Linked DNA regions of Homo sapiens. The protein of the gene in region 4 interacts with the protein of the main gene of each other region in a pairwise test. Each region holds a gene or a part of one and is shown on either strand. Other genes may lie near its edges. The genes, in order: CLIP4, SCGB1A1, TTC23 and TRIM32.

Region 1 (7,025 bases), on a different chromosome or scaffold from region 4:
GCCCAGTCTCTGTCCTACCACTAACACTCTCTCTCCGAGGCGGAGTTCCCCCTCGCAACGGCTATTATTTGCTGTAGATGTTGCTGAGGAATTCAAACCTGTTTAAGTCAGGGAGGGATACAGGGGCAGGGCAGGAAAAGAGGAGAAAAAACAAAGGGAGAAAAACTCAAAAAGCACATTAGCCAAAAAATCACACTAGGTATTCTAACTAGTCTAGTTAGTTGGTGATTTTGATATCTGATGCCTTTCATCACATAAGTCATCTACAGTTGTGTTTCTCACATGTGAGGTCAAGCTGCTCAAAGGAAATGTGAAGAGTTTCCTGGGAAAATTACTGCCATGGGAAATTCACAAAACCTGATCCCTGGTAAACTACCAACTCTTCCAAGATTGCCTGCAGCATCTCTACTAGAACAGGGGTCACAGCAAACTGTTTCTGCAAATTGCTGGACAGTAAATATGTTAGGATTTGCTAGCCATACCACCTCTGCCACAACTATTGAACTCTGCTGTTGCAGCATGAAAGTAGATATAGACAATATATTTTTTTCAAATGTGCATGGCTGCATTCCAAAGAACTTTATTTACAAAAACAAGTGGTAGGTCAGATTTGGCCCATGGGCCATAGTTTGACAATTTCTATTCTACTAAAATACTAGAATTATAGTATTAATAGTTCACTTAGACTCAGTGTAAATTATATAAAAAGTCATGTGATTTGACTTTTTTTTTTTTTTTTTTTTTTTTAAAGAAACAGGGTCTTGCTGTGTTGACCAAGCTGGTCTCAAACTCCTGGGCTTGAGTGATCCTCCCACCTCAGCTTCCCAAAGTGCTAAGATAACAGGCATGAGCCACTGTGACCAGCCAAAAGTAGTGTGATTTGAAGGTTAAATTGCTATACGGTTCTAATTATCCTAAAGTGATTTTGTTATTAAGAACAAAACCACTGCCCTGTCAACCTGATTCAAAACTAAACCTTGAAATGCCCACTATTAAACATAGAAGTCCTAGAGAAATATGATCTAGAAAGCTGTTCAAATATAACAGCTGAAAGAGAAGAAGTGGGTGCTTGAGCCTTGTCCCATCAGTACATAAACAAAGATTTGAAGAGCTGCCATCTGAGAGGGAGTAGAGAACTCTGGAGGAGGGCATGGGATGGAGGGTAAGTCATACTGTGAAAAAAGAAGAAATCAAAAACACAGCAACTAAACAAGGAAAATAAACCCATGGAGAAGGTCTGGATTATACCAGTAAGTCCGAGGCCCTCATCATAACCAATATTCTATAGCACTTCATAGTTTACAAAGTGCTTTTCCTAAAAATTATGCTGAAAAATAAGATACAAACTCAGGAATTAACTAAGACACACTGTTAACAGCCAGTAAGTGGTACACCTAGATTAAAACCAAGACTCTGTGATCAGAAATCCTCAGGCCCGTCCCCTTGTCGCCTGTAGACAATGAACCAAAGATGGCAAGTTCAACAGTGGGACACAGGCTGGGCATGATGGCTCATGCCTGTAAATCCCAGCACTTTAGGAGGCCAAGGTAGGAAGATCACCTGGGTCCAGGAGTTGAAGGCTGCAGTCACTATGATTGCAACACTGCACCCCAGCCTGGGCGACACAGCAAGACCTTGTCTTTAATAAAAAATAAAAAGTAAATAACAATGGGATATGATGAGGCCGAGGTCCCTACCTTTCCCATTCCCCGAATCCTTTATTTCCACTCTTCTTTCTCTAATTTTTTAACCTAACTTTCCATTATTGTTCGTTCTCTGCAGTCTACATCTCCCTCAAATGCAAATCTATAAAACAAGTGGAATATCTACTCACTAGAGAAACATGTTTTAAGTACATGTCTCTGGGGTTCCCAACACAGACTTTCCCATATCTCCCATTCTCGGCCCATCTCCCTCTTTGAAAGGTCCTCTTTCTCACTCTGATAACTCTCTTCATCTTCACTGTTGTTTAAGTCGACATAACCCTCAAATTTATTTTTTTAAATGGTAAATATATAGGCACGCTAGACTACTTTGTTTAGAAGGTTAAAAAAAAAAAAGTAATTCCATACCCATGTATAAATTTTAAAATCAAGTAAATGTCAAAAGTGCAAATACCAAATGAAGGGGGCCTTAAAATGTGAATGAAATTTGGACAAACAGGATGGCTGTGTCAGCACTGTACCTTCTCACCTCTGCTCCTCACAACATAAAGAAAAACTGGTTGGGGTATGGAGAGAGGAAGCCACTCAGAGAATAAATATTCCAGGCAAACAATTTCAGGGAAAACTTTCAGGTTCTCTACTTTTAGGGTCCCAGTTTTTAGGCTTATTATGTCAATGTTATTGTTGAGAGCTTTGGAGGTTTCTTCCCATCAAGTATTTTTTTAGAAATCTGTCATGAATATTTTCCATAATAAAATGTTGGTTCACTACAAGAACTATTAATAGAAGCACTAAAAAAAGAATCTGGTAATAAAGAGGTTCATGAAGAACGTATTTTGCCAAGATGGCTTTTGCCTTTCTGGACAAGTTCGCTATATAGGCAAATAAGTGAACTGCAACAGACAAAATCTATGTCATTTCGAAAAGAAGTCTGATAAAGTGTTTTACGTATCTTTACAAATAACTGAAGAAATGTGGACTGAGTGAGATTATGCAGGTTCACGGCTAGTTAAAAAGCCATATCAAAACTGGCTGGTATTGCCATCCTGGGAGAGGACCCTCTGACCTTCTCCTAGGTTTTAAGCAAACATAGTTTTAAAACAATCACTTGAATAAAAACACAGAAAGCATGCTTTTTAAATATGAAGATGACACAAAGGCCTGTGAAGAAGCTAAATTCAGATGAGGTAAAACCACTAAGAATGAATTACATGAAAATAAATGCAAAGTCTTATATCTGAGACGGCAAAACAAAGAGACCTTAAGGCTTAAGGTTCGGGGGAGGTGGGGAAGAGTAAAAGTAGTTCAATCTGATTGAAGTAAAGGGTTCCTTCTACACATTTAAAAAGAGCAAATCTACTTACAAACAAACCAAGATAAAAAACACCAAGAAAGCCTGGTTGAAAAAGCCATAGATACCAGCACTGGCTCTGGATGAAAGGGAAGGGCTTTTGCTCATTGTCTTCTTGTTACTGCTGATTGCATTCTGTTTCTTGGGGTAGCTCTGTCTGTGTTCCAAAGAAGATGTAGAGGAGCAGCTGCTGACAGATCCAAGCAGGGCAACTGTAACAGATAAAGAACGTGTCAAACGGTGGAAAATAAGATGTGGACCAAGAAGCAGCTTGTCAAGGCAAATCTTTCTGAAATTCTTCATTTAACTTCCTCAATTATGGATTATCTAGTGTCAAATTAAATGCCTAATTTCATCCAAATAGCAATTGTAGTTTATATATAAAAGATTTTATAACACAAGCAATAATATTTTAAGGATTCCCACGGTAAGATCACAATCTTATGTAAGAGGTATCACCACATCAATTGATGTGAACTGACTACCTAATCTAATGACCATCAGTCACCTCTCACCTTAGATGACATAGTAGAGTCCCCTTTTATACAAAAATTAAACATGATATTAATATGTTTTAAGGCAACAAAAGTTTAATATTAAGACATTTTGAGTTAAACCAGAAGGCAAGAAGGAATACTCATGCTCAATTCATCTAATGATTTGATAGCTAAAGGCAAATGAAACATTTGTGTAGAGTGCTCTATATTATGGAATTTCCGTTTATTTTCTTAAATCTAGTCCAGTAGTTATCTAATTTAAGTAAAAGAATCATAATGCAGTACTTTACACACAAAAAATATAATGTATATAGCTTGCTATGAGCTGCTTCAGTGATTTCCAAGTTTAATTTTTACTATAATTTTTCCCTTGCCAACTTTAAAACTTAACCTCCATATAAACTGTTTTCCTACCATATTTTAAAGTTCCATCAAAAGTTAAATTTTGAGAAACAGAGGTTACAAGGTATATTACCATCTTTCTCTGTCACAGTTTTAAGTTCTTCACCAGGAGGCAATGAAAGTGTTGACTCAGAAGCACTATCTTTTTTTGATGTCATTAATCCTTGGACACAAAAATAAAACACTTTAAGCAAGAATTTTAACATTAAACATAAAATGTATTTTTTAAAGTACATGCATCCCTCATTATCGAAATCTCACTCACTTCTGAAAACATATTGGATAACAACTGCACAGACATATGAGGACATGTTTTGGTATAAGCACTAGCATACGAGAAGGAGACAGTAACAGTGGCTACAAAGATCAATTAATGTCTCATCAAGATGATCACATTCTGAGATGGGTCCTAAGGGACAGGTCAGATTTCTTCCTGAGAATACTAGCCGTATGGTCAGGAAGAACTGAGGGCAGGCATTCTTGATGGACAAAAAGAAAATCTTAAGACACAGAAAATAGTGAGTAGCTTGGCTGGAACAGAGTACTTATGAAATGTAGGAAAAGCAAGACTAGACAGACAGGTCACAGTAACACTTCAGACAGGGATGCCAGTGCCCAGCTAAGGACTGAGAACTCTTCTGTAAAGAAGGAGCCTCTGCTGGGCTTTGAAAAGGAATACTGGCATGAACAGAGTCTAGTTAAATAACACTCTCCTGACAGCAGGGCTGCAACGAAACCACAGCGGGAGAGGCTGGAAGCAGGGACCAGTCAGACATTATTAGCATAGTCCAAGCATGAGAGCCTGAACTCCAACAGCAGAAACTGAATGAAGAGGGTGGAGAGGAGACATTTTGTGAAGGCAACCTGAAGAGTAAATTTTTATTTTTCATTACATTTTTCAGTTATAAAATATTTTCTTTAAAGTTTTTATAAAAAATAATACAAGGAGATTCCCTGTACATTTTGACTAGGTTTCCTCCAAAGGTAATGTTTTGCAAAACTGTGGTATAATAAGTATAATATGTCAACCAGGATGTTGGCAGTGATACAATTCACCAGTCTGAGATTTCCACAGTTCTGCTTGTACTCTTGTGTGTGTGTGTGTGTGTGTATACACTTGGGTGTATCATTTGGTTGTTTTTCATATCTTCTATTTCTTGGCTGAAACTTTCTTTTCATTTGTTTCAAGAGTGTTCACGTTTGATTCTTTTTTTTGTTCAGAAACAGGGTCTTGTTCTGTTAGCCAGGCTGTAGTGCAGTGGCACAATCATAGCCCATTGCAGCCTAAACTCCTGGACTCAAGTGATCCTCCTGCCTCAGCCTCTAGAGTAGCTGGGACTACAGGTGTGCACCACAATGCCCAGCTACACCCTTAATTCTTGGAGTGTGGTTACATTACTTAAAATCTTTATGTGTTCATTGCAATGTCCATGTCATCTCAAAGCTGCTATGCTTGGACTGTCTTTTTCCTTGTAAGAGGTGTTGACTTTTTCATATTTTGGGTAATTTTAAATTGTATCTTGTGTCTTTTGAATATTATGTATGGACACTGGAATAGGTCTTGTTTAAATCCTATGGAGGATGTTGACTGTTTCATTTTAGCAGGCAGTCAACCCATGTAGCCTCTGGGCAGAAGTTCCTGACCACCCTCTGTGCACTGTGGTTCTGATGTGGGTTCCGCTTCCGCAGCCTCTGCAATGCTGTTTGAATTTGTCTCATGTGCTGTGCAGCCCAGTAGTCAGGCTGGGACCCAAGCAGTGGTCTACCAAGGAGACCAAAGGCTTTGGTCAGATCCATGCATACACCACTTGCAAGAAGACCTAGGAGTTCACAGCCAAAATTGTGAGGCCTCTTTCTTGAGTCCCCTCCTCTCTATGATTTCCCTGACACTTCCTGCTCCTGGGCATCCCTTCCCGGTATTCTGAGTAGAATGTCTAAGCTTTCGTTTCCTTGCTCTGTCATACAATCCTGAGACTGATTGTGCCTCTGGGGCCAAGCAGTGAGAAAACAGAAGAAAAACCAATGTGGATTCCATCTATGTCCTTGGACCAAAGTTTCTCTGGTCAGAGACATGGATTTCCCTTCCTTGGGGTTTCGGGTGCCTGCCCATTCACAGCTGCCCATCCATACCACGTAGGACTGCCTGGGGACTGGATGGGAAACAAGGGAAAGAAAAGGCAAGCAATAAAGATAACAGGTGATTTCATCCACATTCTATCTAATAGGAGACCCCTTTTCTGCTCCTCAGACCAGAAATAGAGGGGGCTTCTCTTGGAGCTTTCTGTCTATATTTACCGTATACTTCTGGGCTTCAGGTTAAAAGGATGCTACTTATAATGCCACCAAAAAGTATGGAGTACCTACCAATAGACCTAACAAGGCAGATATAAAATACCTGTAGAAAAAAATTACACAATTTTGTTGGGATATTTTCAAAGGGCCTAATTAAACAGAAAGATATTCTAAACTCATAATTTAAAAACTGACTATTGTAAAGATGTCAGTTCTTTCCCATTGATTTAAGCTTCAACTAAAACATCAGATAAAACCTCAACAGAATTTTTAAAAGGAAACTTAACAGTTTATTGTAAAATGTATACGGAAGGGTGATTTATAAAAGCCCCAAATCAGCAAGACAATGATCAAGAATGAGATAGGAGGTTTTCCACTACTGGACATCAAGATTTATTTTTAAAAACTACTTATTATGGAGTGCAGTATTGACACAGGGATATTCAAATAGCCCAGTGGAACAGAATATAAAGGCCAGCCTAATTCTTGGACAAATTCCTTTCATCCTGGTAGAGAGCTTTCTACCTCAACTATTTACAAATTACCAAGTGTTTATTGAGCACCTGTTTTGTGCATTGCTACAGTGAAAACAACACTACAATTTACTCTCATGGTTCAGTTAAAGTTTAAAATTTTGCCGAGAGAATAGGACACTTGCACAAATAAAGCAATCCGAGGACAAAACCCAAGATAACAAATAACAATTGGGTGGTATGGATAAAAAAAGCACATACAAAGTTAGGGAATGAGGAGATTAAAGTGAACTAGAGACAGGATATGAATAAGAAGTCGAAAAAAATGGTGAGGACCTCAAAAGGC
Region 2 (7,446 bases), on a different chromosome or scaffold from region 4:
AGCAAGGTGCCGTTTTTCTTTCTGTTGGAGATCAAGGCAGAGTATTGATCATAGAAGCTGCTGGCCTGATTTTTTAATGCAGTGTGGAGGCTGGGAAGAGGCCACTGAGGGTTTTATTTCCCACCAGAAACTTGCCTCTCATCAGTGGTTAGAGATGCCCTGAGCCATGCTTCACTGGGGGCATGTGACAAATTCAGGCTCTGGCAGGAAAAAGCGATTGTAAGCCAGGCACGGTGGCTCACACCTGTAATCCCAGCACTTTGGGAGGCCGAGGCAGGCAGATCACGAGGTCAGGAGTTCGAGACCAGCCTGGCCAACATGGTGAAACCCCGTCTCTACTAAAAATACAAAAAATTAGCCGGGCGTGGTTCTGGGCACCCGTAATCCTAGCTACTCAGGAGGCTGAGGCAGGAGAATCACTTGAATCCAGGAAGCAGAAGTTGCAGTGAGCTGAGATCTCGTCACTGCACTCCAGCCTGGGCAACAGAGCGAGATTCTGTCTCAAAAAGCAAGCAAGCAAGCAAGCAAGCAAGCAAGCAAGAGAAAAGAAAAAGAAGAAAAGAAAAGAAAAGAAAAGAAGCCATTGAGATTGTACCAGCCAAACATGGGCCCCCGAACCTGGCCGGGAAGAGGTGTGCACATGTGCACAGCGGGCCCTGTGGCACACTCAGCTCATGGACAGAGCAGCCACTTGTACCACTTCATTCCCTTCAACACAGAGCTTCCAGACTCTGTTTTCTTCTCAGGTCCTTACAACCAGGAACATGGGGGAAAGTCACCATTTTCTACCCACTGCTTGCCTCCATCTTCCCAGTGAGTCTCAAATCCCTTTTCCTTGAATTCTCTGCCTTCTGAACAAATTTGCCTTCCCTCCTCTGACTCTAGGGCCTCACTAGAAATTGCCACTCCAAGTCAGACCCTCTCCAGAACTTAGGTCCTTGATGTGTAACTTACTGTGTCACCAGGCAAGTCACTCTGTGTTTCTGTAGCTCAGTTTTCTCATCTGTAAAATGGGAACAATATCCCTACTTCATTTTATTTTTTATTTTTTAAATTTTAATTTAATTTAAATTTTATTTTTATTTATTTATTTGTTTTCAGACGGAGTCTCGCTCTATTGCCCAGGCTGGAGTGCAGTGATGCCATCTCGGCTGACTGCAACCTCTGCCTCCCAGGTTCAAGTGATTCTCCTGCCTCGGCCTCCCAAGTAGCTGGGACTACAGGCATGCGCCACCATGCCTGGCTAATTTTTGTATTTTTAATAGAGACAAGGTTTCACCATGTTGGCCAGGTTGGTCCTGAACTCCTGACCTCAAGTGATCTACCCACCTCGGCCTCCCAAATTGCTGGGATTACAGGCGTGAGCCACCGTGCCTGGCCCAATATCCCTACTTCATAGGGTTGTTGTAAGAATAAAAAGAGAGGCCAGGCATGGTGGCTCACGCCTAATCCCAGCACTTTGGGAGGCCTAGGTGGGTGGATCACGAGGTCAAGAGATGGAGACCATCCTGGCCAACATGGTGAAACCCTGTCTCTACTAAAAATACAAAAATTAGCTGGGTGCAGTGGTGCGTGCCTGTAATCCCACCTACTTGGGAGGCTGAGGCAGGAGAATCGCTTGAACCCGGGAGGCGGAGGTTGCAGTGAGCTGAGATCGCGCCACTGCACTCCAGCCTGGCAACAGAGCGAGACTCTGTCTCAAAAAAAAAAAAAAAAAAGAATGAAAAGAGATATTATGTGAAAGGGTGACAGTGATTGGCACATTGTGTGAAGTAAGTGTTAAATATTGTATGCATGTGCACACAAATAGACAAATGCATCTCTGACCCACCCCTTAACATGTTGCAGTCCTATCTTGCTCAGCCACCCACCTCTGTACGCAGACAGCACTGAGATCTTCTAATTAATACACATTTCAGTCCAAAATGATGTCATTTTCTCTGAAAAACAAATAAACCTCTCTGCAAAATAGTTGTTCCTACTGCTTCTTGGTTTGGGTTTTCTAACTCCCCAGGGTCATAAAACTTATCTCCATGGGTGTTGTGAAGCTTTCCAAGTGAATTAATTGGAGTTTGTTTATTAAAAAATAACAACAGCATTTTCAGATGAGAATGGAAGAGGCTGACGCAGAGTGAAAAACAGAGTTAGATAACCCAGTTCCCCAAAGACGGGGGATCTTGGAGAGAGCTGTGATCCTTCTTTCCTTCCTTTCTCCCCCTCTCTCCGTCTCTCTTTCTGCCCCTCTTCCCCCCACAGTTCTTTTCCTTTTAGTGACAGCAGCAACTACTCAGAGACTCCTAATCCCTTTTGCAGAGGACGGAAATGTTTAGAAAACTTCACTCTGGGTTGGCAGTTCCCCAAAGGGAAGCTCTCTTTCTGGAATATTCCTCTGTGCCCAGAATGAGAGACCTTGTCTTGGGTTGGGTTTCTTTTGGGGTCACGAGTCCCTGCAGCTCCCCTTCCAGTGACTTCAGCTGCCAGCATGGAGTGGAGACCCCAGACTTGGAGGCTGCACCAAGGTCTCAGCATCTTGGAGTCTGTCCAGATCTGGGATGAGGGCCTCATTATTCCTATGCTGGATGTACTCATCTTTATGGGGTATTCTCCACTCCTCCCTCCAGGCTATTCCATTCCCTGGGATTCTGAGGGTTGTTGGATATAGAAGATGGGACCCTTTTTAGGCTTCCTTACAGCCTGGGGCTCTCTCCAAGTTTCCAAGATGAGCTTGCTCACCAGACCCAGTTTTCTGAGACTCAGCATGCCCAGGTCCTCCCAGCAGCTCCAGAGCAGGAATGGGCAGCTCACTCCTTCTTCTGAGCAGAACTGGGGGGTCCTGAGAGTTCCTAAGTCCAGGAGGGAGGGAAGGGTCTCTGAGCACTCACCGGAGCTGCAGCAGAGAGCCAGTGTGACCAGGGTGAGGGTGACAGCGAGTTTCATGGTGGAGGAGGGGGATGCTCTGGCCCGTCTCTGGTTCCGTCTCTGAGTCTGGTGGGCTAGTATGAGACATGCCCAGCAAGGTGCCTTTTATATGCTCTAGGCAGCAGCACCCAGATGGGGAAGGGCAGGGCAAGGGCTCTACATAAGATACTGCACTATTTACTTGGCATTGGCTTGGTGGGATAGGTAAATATTCCCTTTTCTCAACCCAGTTTCTGTCCCCACTGAAACTGAGCTCACACAATGGGCCACTTGGGGGTGGAGGGCCGAGCCCTGCCTGGAGGCAGTGAAGGGAACCCAAGTCAGAGGATGTGGAAACCCAGCTGCCTGTGTCACTCACTGAACCTGGGCACTGGGGCAGTCCAGATCAAGAGAAGCAATTGTGGAGCCCACCTGGAGAAACTGAGGCCCAAGTTCCCTCACAAGTGGCAGGGACAGGACTAGGACTAGGACTCAGGACCCTGACACTCCACTGGGCTCTTTCATAGGCTCCCCTCTGAGGAGGGCGACTGAACCTTAAGCCAGGAAAGACACATGGTTTGGAGCATTGCTGTGGTCAGACTTCGGGGGCCCCTGGATTGAAGCATGTTGAATAAAAGGGACCCTTCCAGAATTCCCATCAGAAACCTGAGCCCTGCCCCAGGCTGGGTCTGTTCCCACCCAGAAGTGCTCTCAAGTCCTGTGCTCCTGATGGCCCAATTGGTGGGACCTTCAGTCCTTATCTCACTTGACCTCCCAATGGCCTTGACACCTGTGACTGCTTCCTTCTCGAACCATTCTCTCTCTTGCGCTCCCACGCCTCAGTTCTTTCCTGTTTTCCTTCTTCTGGCCATTCCTTCTTGTTCTCTTTAGATGTTTATTCTTTACTGTTCTTAAGTGTTGATGGTTCCCAGGCTTTGGCCTTCTCCCCTTTCTTGCCTCCAGTTGCCATTTCCTGGTTCTTCTCCAAAGCCCGGGCCTCATAGCACCTAACCTGGCCTGGTCAAAATCCCCTGACTCGACCTCCCTGCCTCCCTGCTAGCTCTCCTCAGCCATCCTCTGAAAGGCCATCAGAATGATCTTCCTAAAACCCACTGGTCGTGTCCTTCTTCTTGAAACCCTTAAACTCTTCCTTTTGCCTAAAGAATAAAATTCAAGTGCAATTTACAAGGCCCTTGCCCACTGACCTTTGCCTACCATTTGAACTTCATTTCTCCTCTCCCCCACACAACGACTTAGCCCTCTCTTACTATTTGTGGATTCGAGAATGTTCCATGTTTTTTCATGCCTTTCTACCTATGCACAAGCTAAGCCTCATGCCTGAATACACATTTCCTGCCTTGTCCACTTCGCCAAATTCTATTCGTACTTCAAGACTCAATCAAATATTGATCCATTCATTCATCCAATAAATGCTGACCACCTATGATGTGCCAGATGTGGTGCTAGGAGTCGGGAACTGGGGTAGATAGACATGGAGAGGCATTGCGTGGCACTTCAAGAACTCCTCAAAAATAAATAAATAAATAAAAATAAATAAACAAATAAAAGGCCAGACAGGGTGGCTCATGCCTGTAATCCCAGGACTTTGGGAGGCTGAGGCAGGTGGATCACCTAAGGTCAGGAGTTTGAGACCAGCCTGGCTGACATGATGAAACCCCGTCTCTACTAAAAATACAAAAATTAGCTGGATGTGGTGGTGGGCACCTGTAATCCCAGCTACTTGGGAGGCTGAGGCAGGAGAATTGCTTGAATCTGGGAGTCATAGATTGCGGTGAGCTGAGATCACGCCATTGCACTCCAGCCTGGGCAACAAGAGCAAAACTCCGTCTCAGAAAAAAAAAAAAAAAAGAAGGACCCCATTGTGCCTGAGGGCTTCGAAAGGGTTGCTGTGCCTGCAAAGGGGGCATTCAGGGGCCAGAGCACACAAGGCCTCGTTCTAAGGCCTTTACACTCAGAGTGGGAAGCTCTTGAAGGTTTTAATCAGGGAGTGACATGGTCTGATATCCCTTTCCTGATGAACTGACCCTGACTTGGGCAGCTGGGGGAATGGGGTGTTATTTCCTGACACAGAGAAGACTTGGGAAAAATAGGGTTGGGGGTGAAAATAGGGAGTGAAGCCTTCCCCGACAGGTGGTTCTGATGGGTGGTGACTCTCCCCATGGGCCTCTCTTCCCCCTCTGCTTACAGGGCCCATTATACAATATTTTAACTTTGCAATTCTTATTTTCTTGTATGACTCCTTTACTTGACTGACCTCCTTTAGGGCTGAGGCCGCTGTAAGCCAAGGTACGCAACGCTTGCTAAACAGGAATCCCTGGAATGAATCCATGCATGAGGCCTTTGTGCCATGTGACAGTTGAAGGCTGTGGTGACCCCGGAACCGTCCCACTCCGAGACGCCTTAACACCGGTAAGAGCACACGTTCTAAACTAGCAACCAACAAAGACTTGTCAAGTACGTTATGGTGTGTCCTTACAATGAAACGCTGTGTGGCTGAAAACAGAGAAAGAAGATCTTCTGAGCTGATGGTGAAATGATCTCCAAGGCAGACTGCAAAGGGGGAAAAACAAGGCATGAATAGAGCAAAAAAGAACAAAGAGAAGGCTGGGCGCGGTGGCTCACGCCTGTAATCCCAGCACTTTGGGAGGCTGAGGCGGGTGGATCACAAGGTCAGATTGAGACCATCCTGGCCAACATAGTGAAACCCCGTCTCTACTAAAAAAATACAAAAAGCTGGGTATGGTGGCGCTTGCCTGTAATCCCAGCTACTCGGGAGGCTGAGGCACGAGAATCACTTGAGCCCAGGAGGCAGAGGTTGCAGTGAGCCGAGATCATGCCACTGCACCTCCAGCCTGGTGACAGAGCATGACTCCGTCTCAAAAAAAAGCAAAAAGAATCCACATATGCATTTGCTTGTATTTGCATAAAGCATCTCAGAAGTGCCTTCTTTCTTTTAAGTTTCCTTCTGTGTCCCATCATCTGGGCTCTTGAGGTTAGCCCATCTTGAGGATTTCAGGTGTCTGCATCCCTCCCCTCTTAGGGACTGTTGAAAGGTGTAGCCTGCCTGTAACCCCAGCACTTTGGGAGGCTGAGGAGGGCAGATCAACTGAGGTCGTCGAGAGTTTGAGACCAGCCTGGCCAACATGGTGAAACCCCCTCTCTACTAAAAATACAAAAATTAGCCGGGCGTGGTGGCAGGTGCTTGTAATCCCAGCTACTTGGGAGGCTGAGGCAGGAGAATCACTTGAGCCCAGGAGGTGGAGGTTGCAGTGAGCCGAGATCACACCATTGCACTCCAGCCTGGACAACAAGAGCGAAACTCCATCTCAAAAATAAATAAATAAATAAACAAACAAACAAACAAAAGAAAGCTGTGGCCAATGGAGCTGAAATGGGCAAGGAAGATGAGCTGGACCACTGGGGGCACCTAAAGCCCATCCAGTGCCGCCACTAGTGGATCCCTCTGTGGGCAGTGGCTGGTCTGGCCGGGGCAGCTGTGATGGCTGCAGGGGTCTTAGGCAGGAGTCACATCACCCATAGCCTCAGACTCTGCTCTCTACTTTCCACCTTCATGGTGCGAGGTCCTGGGGACAGGATAGCTGGCTCCTGGGTCTTTGAGGAACTTAACAGCTAGGAGGAGAGACAGAGATGGGTGCAACTGATGGGAATGCTCTGTGGGGAGATGGAGGAAGTCAGAGAAGGAAATGGTGCTCCGGGAGTTGAAAGGGGGCTGCCCCCAGGCTGGGCGTGGTGGCTCATGCCTGTAATCCCAGCACTTTGGGAGGCCAAGGCAGGCGGATCACCTGAGGTTGGGAGTTCGAGACCAGCCTGAACAACATGGAGAAACCCTGTCTGTACTAAAAATACAAAATTGGCTGGGCTTGTGGTGGTGCTTGCCTGTAATCCCAGCTACTTGGGAGGCTGAGGCAGAAGAATCGCTTGAACCTGGGAGGCAGAGGTTGCGGTGAGCCGAGATCGCGTCACTGCACTCCAGCCTGGGCAACAAGAGCGAAACTCCGTCTCAAAAAAAAAGGAAAAAAAAAAAAAAAAAAAGAAAGGGGGCTGCCCCAAGAAAGGTAGCTGGGCAGAGGGGAGAGGGCACGTGGAGGGCTGGCATTTGAGCTGGCCTCTGGTGGATGGGTGATGCTGGTGGTTGGGGTGAAGCGGGGGATGTGCCAGGAGGAGGAAGCCACATGAAGGGGGCCCAGGCTCAGGAGGGGACCTGGCCATGGTCCGACATGCATGGGACAGATAAGCACACAGGTACAGTGGGAGTCTGGGGGCACCGGGGGCACTGGCCTTTCAGGTGCGAGGTTGGAGGTTTGCTCTGATTCTGGAAGGTACCTCGACTGCCACCACCAAGTGTCCCAGATAGGCTCTGCCATCTGGCCCTTGGGAGATCCTGCTTGGTGGCGGTGGGTGTTTCTCTCCCCTGCCTCAGGACCCTGCAAAGCCCCTGCTCTTCTGACCCTCTGCTTGAGATAGTGAGGCAAAAAGTGTGTTAGTCAAGGCTTGGAACTCAGAGCT
Region 3 (7,025 bases), on a different chromosome or scaffold from region 4:
AGATTTAACAGGAAAGCTTTGCCTACACCCTGTTGTACAGAGACACAGTGCTATTTGAGATCCTAAGATGTTGGCTAACTTTTTTCTAATAACTTCTTGCCTTATGCTTCCTCATCTGTTCAACCCCACTGGCTGATAAGATGACCATTTCAACAGGTGCTGCAGTCTAGGGAAAGAGCAGTAGCCAGAGATGGAGAATCTGAGATTCAAGAACCTGTGCTGTCCCAACTACCCATGTGATTTGGGCAATACCAACTAATATATACATAACACTTTATACTTTCACATGTTTTATCTCATGTGGCCCTTACAACCATGTAAGGTACAGAGGGTAGCTATTATCATCCCCATTTTATAAATAAAGACGATGAAATGAACCTAAATCAGTTGCACATCACACAGCCAGAATTAGCACCCTGGTCTTCTCATAATTTGGGGGTTTCCCATGACATCATCCTGCCTTTCACTGACCACAGTCTACAGCAGTGGGAAGCAAATGCTGTTGCTTTGGAAACCTAAGCCTGCATTTTAAAAAGTGATCATACATTTTTATAAACAGGAATGCAACATCTTCAATAGATTTAACTATATTTTCTTATCTTCCATTTAGTGGGAGGCAGAAAAGAAAGTTTAAAGATGAAATAAGTAAGAGGCCCTGCAGTATTTGTTATTCTGGGCCTCTGAACCTAGTGTTAAACTTCGAAATGGATTTAACTTTTCTTTTTTGGCTTAATTGTAAAAACTGGTTTGTCTCATGCTGCCTCTTAATATTGCATCCTTAAAAGAGAGGTTATATTTATTCTGAGCACTCATAGGCTCATCTAACTTGTATATATATATTTTTTTTCGCCAGTTAAAAAAAATTGAGCCATCATTTTAAAATTAGGAGTTTCACATGAAGATGTAGATTTTGGGGTTTCTGACTTCCTTTGAAAACTCAGAACACTTGTCAACACTAGATCTATGCCACCACAGGCAATAATCAGCTAGGGAAGAGGGGGAGCTGCCCTGGGGGCAAGGGTACTCTCCAGTTTGCCTGTTGCCACCAATCCCTATTGGCTACCGGACATGAAGGCAGCAAAGTCGTTCCCATTTGTCATTGTTCTTGTGTCTTATTGTAGGAAAGTAGGTCTCTGTATCCATTTCTCTCTTTCAAAGTGAAAGGCCAACAGAGAAGGATATAATTTTCCTGGCCAACACCACTCATTTTCTGTTATTTCGTCTAATCTAAAGCACCACTGACTATAAAGATGCTGCTTTTTTATACACCATTTGACTTGCAATTGTAACGTTCACTCTAATTTCAGAGATGTTCAAATGCCAAAAAAAATGTACGTCTCTGAATCAATGAAAGGAGGAGGTATGCTACCTGTCTGGCTTCTAGAGGCATTTGAGTCTGTGGCCTTACTTTAAATGTATGTGTTTCAATGTATGTGGCATCACACAGTAACATCCTCAACATAAAAACATACTTCTCAGGCAGGGCGCGGGGGCTCATGCCTGTAATCCCACCACTTTGAGAGGCTAAGGCTGGCAGATCACCTGAGGTCGGGAGTTCGAGGCCAGCCTGACCAACATGGAGAAACCCTGTCTCTACTAATACAAAAAATTAGCCAGGTGTGGTGGCACACACCTGGTAATCCCAGCGACTCGGAGGCTGAGGCACAAGAATCGCTTGAACCTGGGAGGCAGAGGTTGCAGTGAGCCGAGATTGTGCCACTGCACTCCACCCTGGGCAACAAGAGCGAAACTGTCTCAAACAAACAAACAAACAAACAAACAAAAAACATGCTTCTCAGTTCACTTACTTTGAGTTACATGCTTATCATCAGCCACTTTTCTTTGTAGTAGCTATAGCTGGGGCTTAAAATTTCATCAGACATCAGCCCAGGTCCCACAAACCATCCTCTTCTTGCCAGCCGTGGGTTCAGCTTTCTAGGTCTCTGAATCACAACTGCCAATGAGACCTACTCAGTCAGTTGATACTGTTCCTTCTGCCAGACCTGCCCAGTAGAATGTTAAAGCACATAATCAGCCCCAGATCAGGGTGTTAGGAAGAAGAGGTCTGAAGTGGAGTCTCAGTCTTCCAAGTGGTGATGTTCAAAATAATAACTGAAATAGCAGGAGGGCCAACCAATCTATATAGGTGCCAACTAGGCTGGAGCTCAGTTCTGAAGGTCCCCTGCTTTTCCAGGTGTGAACCGTTGGAGGCTGACTTGTGGAGAGATGTAGGGGAGCCTGAGGAAGGGGCAGGGGCCCTCAGGGCAGTGGCTTTTAGGAAATAAAAAACCTCATCAATCAGGGACGGTGGCTCATGCCTGTAATATCAGCACTGTGGGAGGCTGAGATGGGTTGATGGCTTGAGCCGAGGAGTTCAAGGTCAGGCTGGGCAACATGTCAAAACCCCGTCTCCACTAAAATTGCAAAAATTAGCCGAGTGTGGTGGCGCTCGGCTTCTCCAGCTACTTGGGAGGCTGACGGGAGAGGACTGCTTGAGCCCAGGAGGCGGAGGCTACAGTGAGCTGAGATCACACCACTGCACTCCAGCCTGGGTGACAGAACAAGATCCTGTCTCAGAAAAAAAAAAAAAAAGTTAAAAAAAAGAAGCCATTATGACTAGTTTCTTAACTAGTGAAAGTGTACGCTAGTTAAGAAGCAAACTTACCCATATGTAAGCTAACGCACTGGAAAAACACTCTAAAAAGATAAAAAATACCAAAAAAATAGTGATAAAAAAATAACAGAAAAATAGAAAATCTGAATAGATCTATAACAAGTAAAAAAATTAAATTAGTAATTAAAAATATTTATACAAGGTTAAGCCCAGGCTCAGATGGCATCAGTGATGTATTCTACCAAACCATTAAAGAAGAAACAACATGAGTATTTTGAAAACTCTAACAGAAGATAGAGAAGGAAACTCTCACTTGTTCTATGAGGTCAGTATTACCCTGATACCAAAGCCAGACAAAGACATCACAAGAAAATAACAAATGAATACCCTTCATGAATATGGACACAAAAATCCTCAACAAAATATTGGCAAACCAAATCTAGCAACATATACAAAGGATAATACATTATGATCAAGGGGAGTTTATCCTAGAAATGGAAGGTTGGTTTAACATCTGAACTCATTAATATAATACACTATACAGTAGAATGTGGTCACAAACCATCTGATCATCTTGATAGATGCAGAAAACACATTTGGCAAAATCCATTATCCAATCATGATTAAAAAAACTTCCCCAACCTGATAAAAGGCTGATAAAAGCCTGATTTTACAAATCAAAGTGGATTAAAGACTTAAATATAAGACCTGAAACTATAAAATTACCAAGAGAAAACACTGGGGAAACTCTCTGGGACAGTGGTCTGGGGAAAGAATTCTTAAGAAAGATCTCAAAAGTACAGGCAACCAAAACAAAAATGGACAAATGGGATCACATCAAGTAAAAAAGCTGCTGTATAGCAAAGGAAACAATCAACAAAGTGAAGAGACAACCCACAGAATGGGAGAAAATATTTGTAAACTACCCATCTGACAAGGGATTAATAACCAGAATATATAAGGAGCTTAAACAAAACCCAATAGGAAAAAAAATCTAATAATCTGATTAAAAAGTGAGCAAAAGATCTGAATAGACATTTCTCAAAAGACATGCAAATAACCAACAAGTATATGAAAAAATACTCAACATCACTGATCAGCACAGAAAGGCAAATCAAACTACAATGAGGTCATCTCACCCCAGTTAAGATGGCTTTTATTAAAAAGGCAGTAACAGATGCTGGTGAGGATGTGGACAAAGGGGGACACTCATACACTGTTGGTGGGAATGCAAGTTATTACAGCCACTGTGGAGAACAGTATGGAAGTTCCTCAAAAAGCTAAAAATAGAAGAACTACCATATGATCCAGCAGTCCCACTGCTCCATATATATCCAAAAGAAAAGTATATCAGAGATATCTGCACTCCCATGTGTACTGCAGCTCTATCCACAACAGCCAAGATTTGGAATCAGCCTAAATGTTCATCAACACATGAATGGATAAAAAAATGTGGTAGATATACACACAAAACAGAACGAAATCCTGTCATTTACAGCAACATGGATGAAACTGAAGGATATTATACTAAGAGAAATTAACCAGGCAGAGAGAGACAAATTTTGTATGTTCTCACTCATTTATGAGAGCTAAAAATTAAAACAACTGAACTCATGAACACAGAGAGTAGAATGATGATTACCAGAAGCTGGGAAGGGTATTGGGCAGGGAGGGAAAAGTGGGGATAGTTAATGGGTACAAAACGTAGTTAGATAGAATGAATAAGATCTAGTACTTGATATCACAACAGGGTGACTACAGTCAACAATAAGTTATTGTATATTTTAAAATAACTAAAAGAGTAGAATTGGAATAATTCTAACACAAAGAAATGATAAGTGCTTGAGGACACAGATACCCACTTACTCTGATGTGATTACTATACATTGTATGCCTGTGTCAAAGCATCACATGTATCTCATAAATATATACACCTACTACTATGTACTCACAAAAATTAAAAATTAAAAAACAAAACCAAAAAATCCTGATTTACAAAAACCTAAAGCTAATATCATACTTAATGGAGCATGTTTGAATGTTTTCCAAGATTGGAAACAAGGCAAGAATGATTTCTCTCACCACCTGTAGTCAAAGTTGTGGATATTACAGTCAGAGCAACAGGCAAGAACAATAAATTAAGGCATGAAGATTAGAAAGGGAGAAATAAAACATTATTATCAGCTGACATAACCCTCTATGTAGAAAATCCTAAGGATTCCACAATAAATAAACAAATAAATCGCCCCCCCCAATTAGAACGACTAAATAAGTTCGGCAAGGCCATAGGATACATAATAAATAAATAAAATTGTATTTTTATATGTCAGCAATAAATAATCTGAAAATAAAATTAAGAAAACACTGATTCAAAATAGGATAAAGAGAATAAATATGTAGGAATAAATTTAACAAAAGAAATACAAGACTTGTACAATGAAAATCATACATTATCGAAAGAAATTAAAGATCTAAATACATGGACATTCCATGTTCATAGATTAAAAGCCTCAATATTAAGATAGAATACTCCTCAAATTGATGTATCGATTTAATGTAATATCCATCAAAACTCAGCTGTTTTTTTGCAGAAATTAACAAGTTGATCCTTATTATGGATGAATTAAGATGGAAATACGAGACTAAGAATAAATAAAACAATCTTAAAAAAGAAGTTGGAGGACTCACACTTCCCATTTTTAAAATGTACTATAAAACTAAAGTAAAAGTAATCAAAAGTGTTGTACTTAAAAATTTTCAGTTATGAGGTAAATAAGTTCTAGAGATATACAGCATGGTAACTATAGAAAATAATTGAAATTTGTTAAGATCTCAGATGTTCTCATCACACACACAAAAATGGTAATTATGTCAAGTGATGAATGTGTGAGCTAGCTCTATTGTGGGAATCATTACAAAAGGTACACTTATATCAAAACACCATGATGTTTACCTCAAATGTATATAATTTTTAGTTTGTCAATCATATTTCAATAAAGCTGGGGAAAAGCCCTCCCCAAAACAACGTGGTGGTACTGGCATAAGAAATGACATATAGAGGCCGGGCGTGGTGGCTCATGCCTGTAATCCCAGCACTTTGGGAGGCCGAGGTGGGCGGATCACTTGAGGTCGGGAGTTCGAGACCAGACTGGCCAACATGGCAAAACGCTGTCTCTACTAGAAATACAAAAAATTTAGCCAGATTTGGTGATAAGTACCTGTAATTCCAGCTACTCGAGAGGCTGAGGCAGGAGAATCGCTTGAACCTGGGAGGCAGAGGTTGCAGTGAGCCAAGATCACACCACTATACTCCAGCCTGGGTGACAGAGCGAGACTCCATCTCAAAAAAAAAAAAAAAAGAATTAATATATAGAAAAATGGGATAGTGTTGAGAGTCCAAAAATAAACTCTTATATATGTGAATTATTTTTTTTAACAAGCATGCCAAGATAATTCAATGGGAAGAGAACAGTCTTTTCAATAAACAATAAACAGTGCTGGTACAACTGGATAGATACATGAAAAGAATAAAGTTGGATCTCTACACCTCACACCATATACAAAAATTAACTCCAAATGGAGTAAAGACTTAACAGTAAGAGGTAAAACTATAAAACTCTTTGCAAATATAGGAGTAAATCTTCATGAACTTTTTTTTTTTTTTTTGAGACAGACTCTCGCTGGAGTGCAGTGGCGTGATCTCGGCTCACTGCAACCTCCACCTCCCAGGTTCAAGACATTCTCCTGACTCAGCCTCCCTGACTCAGCCTCCCAAGCAGCTGGGATTACAGGTGCCTACCACCACGCCCAGCTAATTTTAGTAGAGACGGGGTTTCACCCTGTTGGCCAGGCTGTTCTCGAGCTCCTGACCTGAGGTGATCCACCCGACTTGGCCTCCCAAAATACTGGGATTACAGGTGTGAGTCACAGGGCCCAGCCTGTTAGGCAAAGACTTCTGAGATATAACACCAAAAGCATAAGTGATAAAAGAAAAAAAAAGATAAATTAGATTTCATCAAATCCAAATCTTTACTGCTTCAAAAGACACTATTATTAAAGTTAAAAGACAACCCACAGAATGGGAGACAATATTTGTAAATCATTAATCTGATAAAGGACTTTAACCACAATATATAAAGAACAATTAAAAATCAGTAACATGGGGCTGGGCGTGGTGGCTCACGCCTGTAATCCCAGCACTTTGGGAGGCCGAGGTGGGCAAATCACGAGGTCAAGAGTTCAAGACCAGCCTGGCCAACATGGTGAAACCCTGTCTCTACTAAAAATACAAAAAATTAGCTGGGCATAGTAGTGGGCACCTGTAATCCCAGCTACTCAGGAGGCTGAGGCAGGAGAATCGCTTGAACCTAGGAGGCAGAGGTTGCAGTGAGCTGAGATCGAGCCACTGTAC
Region 4 (7,350 bases):
TTTTCTTATCTGTAAACAAGGAATAAAACCTAGACTGTTAGCAGGATTGAATTCACTAAGATAATGCACATAATAAGCACTCAACAAATTATAATCATTTGCATTTTTAATAGATTGAGGCTGACAGGACAAGTGCCGTAGCTACTGACAAGGTAACATAGGAAATTAGAGTAAGGAGTTTAGACAGGGCTGATTTAATTCCCATGACATATTTTCTTTTAGGGATGTGCACAGATATTCCAGCTAAGTCTTGCTGTCAGACACAGTCTAGCTTTGTTTCTGAACTGGCTTCAGCAACCCTGTAGCTAGTCCTGGAAATGATAGAGCCAAATTCTGTTCCAGGGAAAAGCAGACCAAAAGAGACCATACAGAACAGTAGTTACTCTCCTTCAGAGTATGACTGCCTTCAGCCTCAGTCCCTGCTATGAGGTGTTTTTTCAAGCCAATGGCCTCCATACCTCACCCTATAGTCCGTTGCACCTCATCCTGCCTGATAACCTCAGGCTCCTCTCCTTATCTAGCCCCAGGTCTTGGTCTAAGGGCAAACCAAGAACAAAGTCCAGGGCTCCTCCCTACCTAATCAGAGAGATTTACCCCCCAACTTTAGAGTTCAATCTGATAGTCAGTGATACTCACTGGCAATCCTCTTTTTCATTAGAGGGGAATGGGCTGAGAAAATAAGACTAAGCAGGCCCTAGCAAGGAAGAAGCAAGGAAAGCGGGAATATACGGAGTTACAGAGATCTGGGTATGAGCTTAACTGTGTCATTCCTAGCTATGGAAACTTAGGCAAGTCACTTCCTAAGCCTTAGTTTCCTCATGTGTAAAACTGAATACAGTAGAGCCTACTTAGAAGGACTGTCATGAAAACTGAGTAAAGAAGTAGATACAAGACTAAAAATTACTAGATTTTGAGAACTTACTATGTGCCAGATCCTAGGCATGCTAGTTTACTTCACTAAATCCTCACAACAATTCTGTGACATTGGTCTTGTTATCATAACCCCATTTTACAGATGAAGAGCCAAGGCACTGGGTGGTTAAGTAACTCATTCAAGGCCACAAAGTCAGGAAGAGATAGAGCTAGGACTTAAAGTCAGGAAGAGATAGAGCTAGGACTTGAACCCAGGGTATCTGACTCTAGGTCAGAGTGCCTCAACTTTGGCATTACTGACATTTTAGGCAGGATAATTCCTTACTGCGGGGGGGAAGGGCGTATCCCACACATTGTCAAATGTTTAACATAAAACATTATGTTTAATGTTTAATCTACCCACTTGAGGCCAGTAGTATCCCCCACCCTGTGACAACCAAAAAACATCTCCAGACATTGCCTAATGTCTCCTAGGAGACAAAGCCAGACTTGGTTAAGAACCACTGCTTTACAGTCTAGCACAGGACTAAATGCTCAATACCTAAGGGTTCCCTTTTTTTTTTCTGGTGGTTGTTGTTGTTGTTTTGTCTGTCTCCGAGCCCAAACACCTCACTCACAGAGCCACTGCCCCTTCAAGCTGTAATGGATCTTATATAGGATAAATTATTCCACTCATTCCCCTGGAGGTCTCACTTTCTATCTGCTATCGTAGCTTGGGGGTACAGGGAAAAAGGGCTTAGGCAGATGACCTTGAATAGTTCCACTTCTTCTTCCCCAAAGCCTACCACTTTCAGTGGGCCGGGGGACCGGTGGTCAGAATGGAGTTAGTGGCAATACCATACCTGCCTCATGATAACGGATCTTTGTTTAATAAATGAAGAAGATTCTGCCCTTCACAGGGATTACCACACTCCTTCAGGATTATCTGAACTGAAGATTTATCACTTTGTTCCTCAGCACCTGAACTCTGCTCATCTTCATATACTCATCCAGTTTCATACATTACTTTTAGGTCCTTGGGTCCCCTGAACTCCCTCTGTCTCCCATGCAGCGATTTAAGGAAAATCTCTTTAGCAGCCCAAGACACCAATCCACAAATCTACTCAGGGTCCTTTGATTTTATAGCCCAGTTAGGACATCTCCACCCCACGATTCAATCCTCTCCAAACCCTGTCCCCAACCCTCTTACAATTCCAAATTCCAATCTTTGGGGCTGTATATTGCAACCCTCGTCAATTCCTCACTCATATGCCCCAAATCCCTCGGACTCAGATCGTTTAATCCCTATTTCCAAATCTCTGCCACACTCAGCCCCGCACCTCAGTTCAACGCCCCAATTCCTCACCCCAGATTTCTGCTCTCCCTCAATCTGAGCCCCCATCTCCTGCATTCCATCGGGCACTGTGCTGCCCTCATACCCTGCTCCTTCCTCTTATGCACTGAATGTCATGTGCTGCCTTCACACCTCAGCCAGCTCCCTTCTTTCTGCTAACAAGATAGAGTCCCTCAAGAACTCACCCCACCCCCTCAATCTCACCCTCAGCCCACTCCGAAAACCCTTTCTCAATAGCACTTAGGATCGCCCTAGACCTTGCTCCTATCATCTCAGACCCTGTCCTTGCCAGATGCCTAGCGCCCCCAGATTTCCTCAAATCTCATCGGGGCCCCCCAGTTCCTTCATATTTCTGAAATTCTGCACCCAGGTCCCTCCAGGGCCCTGATTCCCTCCCATCTCCCACATGCTACACCCCGTTCCTCCTCAGGGCCCCGACATTACCTCATACCTCCCGAGATGCTGCAACCGCAAATCTCTTCAGAGCCCCTCGCTCCCCTCCCCCAGCTGCATCTCCTCGGATCTCCTCAGCCCCACGAATCCCTCCCGAGCCTGCCCCTCGCAGCCCCACCCCCACCCTAGTCCTGCCCCCCCCAGATCCGGTCCCCACACCCTGCCATTCGGGCGCGGCCGCTGCACGCCGGCACGTTCCCCCGCCTGGCCGCTGAGCCACGGCCCACGACTCCGGCCGCGGTCCCCAGTCCCCAACCCTCCTTCCCGCCCCCTACCTGACCGCCCGCGGCTCCGACGAGTCCACCGCCGGCAGCCCACCCGCCTGCCTCCCTCTGCGCACGCGCCGTTGAGCACCCCTTGCCGGGCGCCAATTCGCAGAGCTCCCTGTCCGTCACTGAGCCCCGCCTCCCCAGCATGCTGGGGCTTGTCGTGCAGCTGGCCCCAAGCGCGCGGGGCAAGGCGGCCCTGCAGGGGTGAGCTTTCCTCTGAGAACCCGGGGCCTTAGCGACACGTAATCCAGTTTTCCGTCTCCTTGGTGCAGATGAAGAAACCGACGCCCATGGGCGAAAGGGACCTGCTCAAGTTCACTCAGTAAGTCAGGAGATAAGCCAGAATGCGTATCTGACTCCAGTCTCAATGTCTACCCCTTCACAAAACGGTAGCCTCCAGGGTAGTCCTCAGCAAAGCGTTGGCACCTTACTGAATCTGTTTTTCCATCTGAGAAATGGGCCAACGGAAAAATCAAACTTCCATTCTGGGGAAGTCGAGAACCGGGACTCCCTAGGAAGGGCAGTGCTTTGGCCTCATGTTCTGTGCTCTGACAGAGAGCTGCACTAGAGACAAGTTTATCCATGAACACATTGCTCTGTAAAGGAATGTTTTGCCTACTCAGCTGGGAGGCCGACAGCAGAGGCAGACTTGGGGAGTACACTCTGCAGCCCCTGTCCCTGCAGACTGAAGGTACCCGGGAACCCAAACCAAGTGTAGTTTTGCTCGGGTGAAGGTGGAGGAATCTTACCAGGTGGGAGGTGATCTGGCCTGAGATTTGAGGGAATCTGGGGCACTAGGCATCTGGCAAGGACGAGGTCTGATACAGGACTGGCTGGCCACGACCTGCAGTCCCTGAAGTAGTTTGGGGCCAATCACCTACTCTCCAAGGTGACTATACTGTACAGCTTAGGAGCACAAAGGAGTTTGAAGTAGGATGGACTTGGATTTGAAATTCCCCTTAGCTATGTGACCCTGCACAATGATAAAACAATAAACAAAAACAATGACTAACATCTTTGAACACTTGCTGTCTGGCTACAGCTGAGGACTTCAGGTGCATAGCTCACTAAATCCTCATAAGGACCTAATGAGATAAGGCAGCTGATGGTTAACCTACACCTGTTGTGTAACCTAGGTGGTTACACAAGGCCACATATACCTAAGTGTTGGAGCCCAAATTTGTACCCAATTCTATCTGAGAACCCACTCTCTTAACCTTGTTTACTCTTTCTCCCCATTTTCTAAATTTCTAATTGAAGTTTGCCATGAAGATAAGCCAAGATTATGGTAGTTTGCACTTAATGATAACTATATTTGAAAAATTGTAATTAGCAGGTAGGGGATAAGGGAGAGGTAATGCCAAATGATTTCTCACTTAGACCAGTTGGGGAGACTTTGCACCCGTTTAAAATTTTTTTTTTTCCTGAAAACCACAGTTATCAGCCCAAAGTATAAATTTAGGACTGTTCATAGTCTTACATATATACATATTATATATGTGTGTATATGTATCAATACAGACATACTGATGTTTCCCTAATTACAGAGGAGTGTTAAAAATACTCCTGGGGATCTAGCTCAAGCAAGTGTCTTGAAAAAAAAAAATCTCTCTTCTCCCTTAAAACAAAAATCAGTGTTTGACTCTTCTTTAATGTTTATTACCAGTTAAATGAATTATTATACCTCTCACAAAATCTTAGAGTAGAATAAGCATTCTAGGAAATGCACTCAATTTTTATCTTATAGCTTGACATATCCTGGCACAATATTAGAATTCCTCTTACACAGAGGCATTTAAAAAATAATCTTTGTGGAGTGCTTTAAACACTCTTTATTCAGCATTTTAATGTAACAGATTTTTATTTAACACTTAAATCACCTATATCAGTGGAACCACCTGAGGAGTTTACCTTGCCCACTGCCTAGACAGAGCTGATTCATCAAGACAGGGGAATTGCAATAGTTAAAGAGTAATTCACGCAGAGTCAGCTGTGCGGGAGACTGGAGTTTTATGATTACTCAAGTCATCTCCCTGAGCATTTGGGGAACAGAGATTTTAAGGATAACTTGGTGGGTTGGGGGAAGCCAGTGAGCCAGGAGCGCTGTTGGTCAGGGATGAAATCATAGGGAGTCGAAGCTGTCTCCTTGCAGTGAGTCAGTTCCTGAGTGGGGGGGCCACAAGATCAGATGAGTGAGTTTATTGATCTGGGTGGTGCCAGCTGATCCATCAAGTGCAGGGTCTGCAAAATATCTCAAGCACTGATCTCAGAAGCATTTTAGGGAGGCTCAGCATCTTGTAACCTCCAGCTGCATGACTCCTAAACCGCAATTTCTAATCTTGTGGCTAATGTTAGTCCTACAAAGGCAATCTAGTACCCAGGCAAGGAGGTCTGCTTTGGGATAGGGTTGTTACTGTCTTTGTTTAAACTATGAACTACAGACTAAATTTCTCCCAAAGTTAGTTCAGCCTATGCCCAGGAATGAACAAGGACAGCTTGGAAGTTAGAAGCAAGATGGAGTCAGTTAAGTTAGATCTCTTTTACTGTCTCAATCATAATTTTGCAAAGGCAGTTTCAGTCCATCACTTTGGGTTTTGTAACACCTTAATCTTAAAGTGTAGGGTATGAAGATGGGAAAAGGCTGTCGATTGCTCTGGGTTCTTCTTGCTGACAGGGGACGTAGTGGGAATGGGAGTCAACCCCAAGGTGAGAAGAGTGGGACCACTTTCAAGTGTCTGAGCGACTCATGCAGGTCTGGCTGGGCTTCTAAGGCTTGCATGGCAAAAACATTAGTACTCTCATCTATAGTTTTAGTACAGTATTTAGGTGAACAGCCTACTATAAGGTAAATAATGAGTCCTAGGATGAGGAGTACAATACTCAATTTTAAAAGCAAAGATTTGAAAGCATTAGTCTGGCGACTTCCAACCCACAAATAATTTAGGATTTAGTCAAAATTGTAGAAAAAACTCAAGGACAGCTAACAACAGCTAACAATAGGTTTCCTCTTGAAGCATAATTTCTCTCTCTCCAGACCCCATTTTTATTAAAAACAAATCATGATAGAACTGATTTGTTTACAGAAATGTACTTTAGTCTTACTATACTTGGCCTGATTATTTGCATAAAGTGCAGCAAGAATAATTATTTTTCACTTAGGGTCTTTTTTGTTTAAATTAGCTTTGATGGAACTCTGTTCCATGAGGAATCTCAGATAAGAGTTTTTAAAAGCCAAGCTCAGCCATGGGTTTGTATCCTCAAATACCTATGAGTTGGGTAAATTCCTCTCTTCTCAAGGTCCCAAAATAACTTGGGGTTCCTGGGCCTGTTAGAAAGTGACATTCTTTACTTACCACAGGTCAGGAACCTTGTACAGGGACTGTATGACAGAACCTTGTACAGGGACTATAGACAAGGTCTGAGGTTAGATTCCCCAGGGGGCTTTAATTGGCTCTATACATTAATTTTGATTCTTTGAAGGAAGCATGCCATTCCAGTAAAAGCCTTGGTAAAATAATCAATTTCTCCAGTTGTGTCCTGTTACAAGACAAAAACAGATTCTTACTGCACTTATGCAATTAAGTATACTGGCATAAATTGAGAATACTTACAAATAGTTTCCATATTCAGGAGAAATCAGGTAGAGAGAAACAAATATGCTCTAAATTTTTTTCATGGAAGTATTTTTTACTCATTTGTTAAAAGTTGCAAATAACTCTAAAGAAATATGCTATCTTGACTCTGAAAATGAGAGGATTAGCAATGCTTAACACATCAGCTATCTGTGAGAAGCCTAGAAGTTTCATTTTTTCCTCTATTCCAATAAAACAATTTTTAAAGTTATCTGAGACCTGCACTCAGAGTGTGATATCTGATTATAAACTGCCTTTTGAAAAGGACAAAAGCAAGACAAAATGTCTATGGATGACAAAAGTCTATAGCTACTATTAAAGCTGCAATTGACTAGGAATCTTGGTTACTTCTGTGGCATACAACACTTTTATATAACAATTATAATTATTAATAATGTACTCTAAATCATATCAGAATTATAGAAGTTTCCCATAATTTCTGGAACACATACTAATAACATATTTATACAAATATAGTCCAAAGAAAACCAAACACTATTCACTCTTCAATTTGAAAGTTTTTCCTCGATTCTAATATCACAGTCTCCAGAGTTTTTAATCAGAAACCTGCATTTAAGAGGGCCTGTTAAATTTTATAGCTGATTATAAAACCATCCGTTAAAGAGGACCAAAGCGAGACAACAATTGTATATGGATGACAAAAACATTTTAGGGCAGCCACACTTTTTTTTTTAATTTATTTTTTATTTTTTATTTTATTTTATTATTATTATACTTTAAGTTTTAGGGTACATGTGCACAATGTGCAGGTTAGTTACCTATGTATACA

The links.
Region 1: the proteins of TRIM32 (region 4) and CLIP4 interact in binary tests that used the Homo sapiens proteins (3 or more experiments, as listed by UniProt).
Region 2: the proteins of TRIM32 (region 4) and SCGB1A1 interact in binary tests that used the Homo sapiens proteins (3 or more experiments, as listed by UniProt).
Region 3: the proteins of TRIM32 (region 4) and TTC23 interact in binary tests that used the Homo sapiens proteins (3 or more experiments, as listed by UniProt).

What each region holds. Positions count from the first base shown.
Region 1 is NC_000002.12:29,153,406-29,160,430, reverse strand, and holds part of CLIP4 (CAP-Gly domain-containing linker protein 4), read right to left. Parts: intron 4,078-7,025; coding exon 3,988-4,077; intron 3,228-3,987; coding exon 3,084-3,227; coding exon of another isoform or gene 3,029-3,083; intron 99-3,028; coding exon 1-98.
Region 2 is NC_000011.10:62,414,587-62,422,032, reverse strand, and holds the start of SCGB1A1 (uteroglobin precursor), read right to left. Parts: upstream 3,001-7,446; 5' UTR 2,938-3,000; coding exon 2,883-2,937; intron 1-2,882. UniProt on the Homo sapiens protein: Binds phosphatidylcholine, phosphatidylinositol, polychlorinated biphenyls (PCB) and weakly progesterone, potent inhibitor of phospholipase A2.
Region 3 is NC_000015.10:99,239,557-99,246,581, forward strand, and holds part of TTC23 (tetratricopeptide repeat protein 23), read right to left. Parts: intron 5,955-7,025; 5' UTR 5,833-5,954; intron 2,004-5,832; 5' UTR 1,809-2,003; intron 1-1,808. UniProt on the Homo sapiens protein: Participates positively in the ciliary Hedgehog (Hh) signaling.
Region 4 is NC_000009.12:116,682,966-116,690,315, reverse strand, and holds the start of TRIM32 (E3 ubiquitin-protein ligase TRIM32), read right to left. Parts: upstream 3,012-7,350; 5' UTR 2,935-3,011; intron 2,748-2,934; exon of another isoform or gene 2,651-2,747; intron 1-2,650. UniProt on the Homo sapiens protein: E3 ubiquitin ligase that plays a role in various biological processes including neural stem cell differentiation, innate immunity, inflammatory resonse and autophagy.